Homo sapiens: one gene and its partner. The protein of the gene in region 2 purifies or fractionates together with the protein of the main gene of each other region. This does not show direct contact. Each region holds a gene or a part of one and is shown on either strand. Other genes may lie near its edges.

Region 1 (3,826 bases), on a different chromosome or scaffold from region 2:
CAGCCTGGCCAACAGGGTGAAACCCCATCTCTACTAATACAAAAATTAGCCAGGCATGGTGACAGGCGCCCGCAGTCCCGGCTACTCAGGAGGCTGAGGCAGGAGAATCACTTGAACCCGGAAGGCAGAGGTTACAGTGAGCGAAGATGGCACCAGTGCCCTCCAGCCTGGGCAACAGAGTGAGACTCAGTCTCAAAAGATAAATAAATAAAAAGTTTTAAAAAAATGAAGCCTGTCACTTCAAGAAAATAACACTATTTGTTGCAATGATAAAATTCAAGCTTTCAAACTAAAAATCAGGATTTGGAGAAACTTGTACCTTATTATGTGAGTTTAACAGCTTCTCAATACTTAAAGATTTTTTAATACAATTGGTGGTGATACTAACAAAAGTGAGCTTTGCCACTGTCAAGAAATGTGAACCAGGCTGGGTATGGTGGCTCACGCCTGTAATCCTAGCACTTTGGGAGGCTGAGGTGTGCGGATTGCTTGAGCTCAGGAATTCAAGACCAGCCTGGGCAACATGGTGAAACACTGTCTCTACTAAAAATACAAAAAATTAGCTGGTATGGTGGTATGTATTTGTAATCTCAGCTACTTGGGAGGTTGAGACAGGAGAATCGCTTGAACCCGGGAGGCGGAGGTTGCAGTGAGCTGAGACTGCACCACTGCACTCCAGCCTGGGTGATGGAATGAGACTCTGTCTCAAAAAAAAGAAAAAAAAAAGAAAGAAGAGATGTGAACCAATATTTTCCATATAACCAATGCATAATATTAGAAAACCAAGTAAGGGGAAATGATACATATATTGTACAAGACAGATGGGTGAGTACTAATAAAAAATTCATTGATAACACAAAATTCCACTGTAACCATTTTAAGAAACTAGCACTTGTGGAGTGTTGGGTAGTATTAAAGAATACTGGCCGGGTATGGTGGCTCATGCCTGTAATCCCAGCACTTTGGGAGGCTGAGGCGGGTGGATCACCTGAGGTCGGGAGTTCAAGACCAGCCTGGTCAACATGGCAAAACTCCATCTCTACTAAAAATACAAAAATTAGCCAGGCGTGGTGGCATGCGCCTGTAACCCCACCTACTCGGGAGCCCGAGGCAGGAGAATCGCTTGAACTTGGGAAGTGGAGGTTGCAGTGAGCCGAGATCGTGCCACTGCACTCCAGCCTGGGCAACAGACAAGACTCCGTCTCAAAAAAAACCAAATAAAAATAAACTAAAAAATAAAGAATACCCACAACCATCTGAAAGCTTTAAAAATATACCTTTTACCAACTATATATTTGCGTGAGGCTAGGTCATCTTCTTATCACTTCTTCAAAACAAATTACAGCTCACTACCAGGGTGCACTATTAGCCACGTAATACACCTACACATGTACTCACTGTATCTAAAATAAAAGTTGAAATTAAAAAAAAAAACTAATTGCAAAGACAGAGATGAGAATCCAGCTGTTTTCTGTTAAGCTGGACACTAGAGAGTTGTATATATATAAATACATGACACATTTTACTCAACTTCGTTGTTGTAGAAGAGAGTTATTTTTCATGAAAAAATATTATTTATGTTAACAATATGATTCTCAGTCAGGGGTTATATTTTTGTTGTCACAACCTGGGACAGCTGTTAAATATCCTACAATACACAGGACAGTCCCCACAACAAAGACTTATGTAGCTCAAAATATCAACAGTGCCAACGTTGAGAAACTGAAACTAAATATAGGGTTTTTTTTTTTAAATTCTCAACTTCAATTTCTAATGCAATAAATATCAATATAACCAACATAAACAAATACTCTTTGGGATCCTCAGTAATTTAATAATTGAAACCATCTTGGGGACCAGAAAAACCACAAATGATTCAGTTCAATACTGTAATAGCAATCTATAGCTTATGATGTCTATAGTTATGACCTAATACTGAACTTGATATCATGCAAAGTAATTAGCTGGAATAACAAGACAGGTTTTAAAGGAGCTCACCTGTTCTTTATGTGGTAATATATTGCTAAGGTCACACTGTGAAGGGAAAAAAAAATTATTTTTAACAACTGATTTAAACATTTGTTAGGCCTGAAGACATTTTTTAAATGAGGGAAGGGAGGAACCCTCCTAGCGGCCCTGAAATCCTCTAGTTCAGAACAGTACCATATGGGTACTTTCCCCTTGTTTTAGTTCCTTTCAGCAAAAATACACGAACCAAAATGCTAAGTAAGGCCGGGCGCAGTGGCTCACGCCTGTAATCCCAGCACTTTGGGAGGCCGAGGCAGGTGGATCACGAGGTCAGGAGATCGAGACCATCCTGGCTAACACGGTGAAACCCCGTCTCTACTAAAAATACAAAAAATTAGCCGGGCGTGGTAGCAGGCGCCTGTATTCCCAGCTACTCAGGAGGCTGAGGCAAGAGAATGGCGTGAACCCGGGAGGCAGAGCTTGCAGTGAGCCGAGATCGTGCCACTGCACTCCAGCCTGGGCGACAGAGCGAGACTCCGTCTCAAAAAAAAAAAAAAACCCAGTAATATGCTGTTAAAATACATGTTTCTGTGGACTATTATAATATATAAATAATTACATATATCCCCATTTGCTCTTCTGCCCATAGAACCTTTCATTTTATACAAGTTCTACCTATTTGTATACATGCTTAAATTTAAACTATTTGGTTTTTTGGTTATTTTTATTTTTTGCTTTTTAAGCTGTTAGGCTCTGCATTTCAGTTGATTTAATTAACTATCACCTACCCACCCATCTTTCATTATTTCCCCTTAAAGTAAATAAAAGTGTTTTATACCAAATAAAATCATTTATGATCAATTTTGCATCATTAGTAGAAAATTTATTAGTAAATAAGTGCACACAAAACCAATGATAGGTGTAGCTATCCTGAAATAAGCAGTGCTAACAATGCAGCATAAAACTACAAAGTGTAATATTAATGGCAAGTATTTCCACATTGGTTTAAGTAAAATATTAGTGAACAGACACGACTTTTCAGATATATGTTACTGTATTCCTAAATTACCCACAGATGTTGTGTATCAGGAAACAAGGAGTTGTCTTAGGTAAGTTATATGCTTCCATTTGCCCTCAGTCTCTAAACTGAGGCTCAAAATAATTGAGGGAAGGCAAATCTGAATTTTAAGTCCATACAATGTTAGCACTTTTTTAAAAAGTCTGTAACATTAGCATCTAAGATGGATACTTCTATAGTGCTTCAAACATTTTCATGTCCAAATTGATTTTAACATTACAGAATTTGAAGTTATATGCTGAAAAGGACCACGGAACCTTACATGACATTTAATCCAACACCCAGTTTACAGATATGGGAACCAAGGCTTAAAACTGACTTGCCCAAGGTCCCACCAAATAGAAGCAGTTCATCCTCCTACATTCAATTAAGCAGTGGTTCTCAAACTTTCTGCACACTGCAATCACCTGAGGAGCTTTAAAAACTGCCTAACTTCCAACTTGAGACATTCTGATTTAATTGGCATCGGGTATGACTTGGGGCATGAGGAGTGTTTTTTGTTGTCTTTTTGTGTGTTTTGTTTTGTTTTTTTTTTGAGACAGAGTCTTGCTCTGTCGCCCAGGCTGGAGTAAAATGGCACAATCTCGGCTCACTGCAACCTCCGCTTCCCGGATTCAAGCTATTCTGTCTCAGCCTCCCAAGTAGCTGGGATTACAGGTGCACGCCACCACGCTTGGCTAATTTTTTTGTATTTTACTAGAAATGGGGTTTCACCGTGTTGCCCAGGCTGGTCTCAAACTCCTGAGCTCAGGCAATCTACCCGCCTTGGCCTCCCAAAGT
Region 2 (3,455 bases):
ACATGGTGAAACCCCATCTCTAAAAATATAAAAATTAGCCCGACGTGGTGGCATTTGCCTGTAATCCCAGCTACTCGGGAGGCTGAGGCAGGAGAATTGCTTGAACCCAGGAGGCGGGGGTTGCAGTGAGCCAAGATCATGCCATTGCACTCCAGCCTGGGTGACAGAGCAAGACTCAGTCTCATAAATAAATAAATAAATAAATAAAAATAAAATGATTCCACAAGCCAGGCATGGTGCCTCACACCTGTAATCCCAGCACTTTGAAAGTCCAAGGTGGGAGGATCACTTGAGGCCAGGAATTCAAGACCAGCCTGAGAAACTTAGGGAGACCTCATCTCTACAAAAAAATCTTAAAATTAGCTGGGCGTAGTGGTGCATGCCTGTAGTCCTAGCTACTTGGGAGGCTGAGGCAGGAGAATCCCTTGAGTCCAGAAGGTTGAGGTTACAGTGAGCCACGATTGTGCCACTGCACTCCAGCCTGGGCAACAGAGTGAGACCCTGTGCGAAATAGAAAATAAAAATAAACAAAAAATTTAAAAATTTTTTTAATTAAACAAAAATGATTCTACAATCAAAGCAAAATTCTGAGTAACATAACAAAATCCTGTGATAATTTAAGAATGTGGGGCATGAAGACCATTTAAAACAGTTGTTCTTAAACTACATTTTTCCAAGATCACCTTGGGAAGACAAACAGGAAGTCTTAGCCAGGTCACCAAGACCCTCTTCCCTAGTTCAACTACTCAGCTATGCTTCATCTCCACTACATATTGAAAAATTATGTACGATGCCATTTCAACAAAAGGATGGTGAGGAAATAATTTAGAATAATATTCCAATATTAATATCAATATTTTACTGGATAAACTATGTAATAGCTCCAAGTGTTATCATCAGAGAGAGAAGAAAGTTTTCTTCTGATGAATGACTCTGCTCAGGGCTCCCTTCATGTCTCTGTTCCTCAGGCTGTAGATGAAGGGGTTCAGCATGGGGGTCACCACAGTGTACATCATAGCCATGACAGTGTCCTTTAGAGTAGAACTATTAGCTGATGAGCATAAGTAGAGACCAATAACGGTTCCATAGAACAGTGACACCACAGACAGGTGGGAGCCACAAGTAGAGAAGGCCTTGCAGATACCCTTAGAAGAAGGGACCTTGAGGATGGAGGAGACAATTCTTGCATAGGACCCAAGGATGAGTAGGAATGGGATGACAAGAATGAGCCCTCCCATGATAAATATCACCCATTCATTAACTCGAGTGTCAGAGAAGGCCAGCTTCAGCAGAGCAGACATATCACAGAAAAAGTGGGGGATCACATTGTCTGCACAAAAACACAACCTGGCCATGAGTAAAGTGTGTAACATGGCATGGAAGGTGGTCAGCACCCAGGACAGCGCCACCAGGGCGAGACAGAGCATGGGGCTCATGATGGCGGTGTAGTGCAGGGGGAAGCAGATGGCCACATAGCGGTCATAGGCCATGGCCACAAGGAGGAAGCTCTCCAGGTCTCCAAATAACAGGAAGAAGTACATTTGGGTCAGGCAGTCCGCATAGGGGATGGATGGGTCCTGGTTCTGCATGTTCTGTAACAACTTGGGAATGGTCACGGAAGAGAAGCAGAGGTCAGAGAAGGACAAGTTGCTGAGAAACAAATACATAGGCGTGTGGAGATGGGAGTCCAGTCGAATGAGGACAATGATGAGGAGGTTCCCCAGGAGGGTGGTAAGATACATGGCCAAGAACAGGGCATAGCACAGGTTTTGCTGCTCTGGTTGGATGGGCAGGCCCAGGAGCAGGAAGTCTGAGATGCTGGTTTGATTTTGTCCCATCATGCTCTGTCTCCAGTATCTTTAATGGAAAAACAACAGTATCCTTTAAAATCTGAATTTTAAAATGGAGATATTTCTGTGACACTTGGTCTGCTGAGTGTTCTGCGAAAATTATTTAACTGACATTATAATAATCATCTCTATACCACAAATATCTATAATTAGAATCTCTATAATCAGAAATGACTTAACTTTATCTTTTTTCTCTTCATTTATCTTTAACATGTAACAATATTCCATCCTTTCTAAAATACTCATCTATTTACTTCTGAAACATAAAGTGTGTTGGTTTCTCTCTTACCTGCCTCACCAGTAACTGCAGTTGGCTCCTCCTCTGTCAGTATCTTACATGTTGATATTCCTCAGGGATTTTTCTAAACTTCATTTTTTTTTTATAATTCTGCATAATGGCCAATAAAAACACATCTACTCCAATGGCTTTAATTGCCATTTAAAACTCAGGTGTAGGCTGGGCGCAGTAGCTCACACCTGTAATTCCAACATTTTGGGAGGCTGAGGTGGGTGGATCACCTGAGGCTAGGAGTTTGAGACCGGCCTGGCCAACATGGTGAAACCTTGTCTCTACTAAAAATACAAAAATTAGCCTGGTGTGGTGGCGGGTGCCTGTAATTCAGCTACTCAGGAGGCTGAGGCAGGAGAATTGCTTGAACCTGGGAGGCAGAGGCTGCAGTGAGCCAAGTTTGTGCCATTGTACTCCAACCTGGGTGACAGAGTAAGACTCTGTCAAAGAAAGAAAAGAAAGAAAGAAAGAAAGAAAGAAAGAAAGAAAGAAAGAAAGAAAGAAGGAAGGAAGGAAGGAAGGAAGGAAGGAAGGAAGGAAGGAAGGAAGGAAGGAAAGGAAAGGAAGAAAGAAAGAAAGAAAGAGAAAGAAAGAAAGAAAGAAAGAAAGAAAGAAAGAAAGAAAGAAAGAGAAAGAAAGAAAGAAACAAACAAACAACTCAGGTGTTCAGGTGTAGCGTTCTCTAGTATACAGAACTTAGTATCCTGAGTCTCAATGATTAACATCTCTTGGATGGATCACAGGCATCTTTGGCTTGACAGATCCTAAATGACATTCTGATCTCACCCTGCTCCTCTTCTAACTCCATCCTCCTCCACTCTCTCATGTTTGGTGAATGGAATCCAGGCTCAAGTCAGAAACCTAAGGTTTGATTTCATTAATTCATTTCTCTCACAGTCAATATCCAATCTAGCAAGTCCTACAGATTCTGCACTTCATTCTCTTTCTAATTCATCCACTCCTTATCCCAACTACCACAACCCTAAACCAGGTGGAAATCTTGTATTACCTGGACTATTGAAACTGCTTCTCAATTCATCTTCCTGCCCCTGTGTTTCAACAACCTTCTCTTCCAACAATCTTCATTTACACTGTGGCATTCTGAGATGAAAATCTGATCATCCCTCTCTTGTGATTAAATATTTCGTGGATTATCATTGTTCTTAAGATAGAGGCAAAATTCCTTTCAAGAGCACAAAGGATGTTTCATTACCTGACCAACACCTGCCTCCACAGCCTCACCTGGCCCCACAATGACTCTTGCATCCTCTTTTCAGCAATGCTGGACTTATACGTCATAATTTCTTGCCTCCAGC

What was found.
Region 1: the proteins of OR1E1 (region 2) and CCNYL1 purify together in Homo sapiens (affinity purification with mass spectrometry; one large-scale study listed by BioGRID and IntAct). This does not show direct contact.

The regions. Positions count from the first base shown.
Region 1 is NC_000002.12:207,735,619-207,739,444, reverse strand, and holds part of CCNYL1 (cyclin-Y-like protein 1), read right to left. Parts: intron 2,035-3,826; coding exon 1,999-2,034; intron 1-1,998. UniProt on the Homo sapiens protein: Key regulator of Wnt signaling implicated in various biological processes including male fertility, embryonic neurogenesis and cortex development. Activates the cyclin-dependent kinase CDK16, and promotes sperm maturation.
Region 2 is NC_000017.11:3,396,570-3,400,024, forward strand, and holds OR1E1 (olfactory receptor 1E1), read right to left. Parts: upstream 1,842-3,455; coding exon 897-1,841; 3' UTR 535-896; downstream 1-534. UniProt on the Homo sapiens protein: Odorant receptor.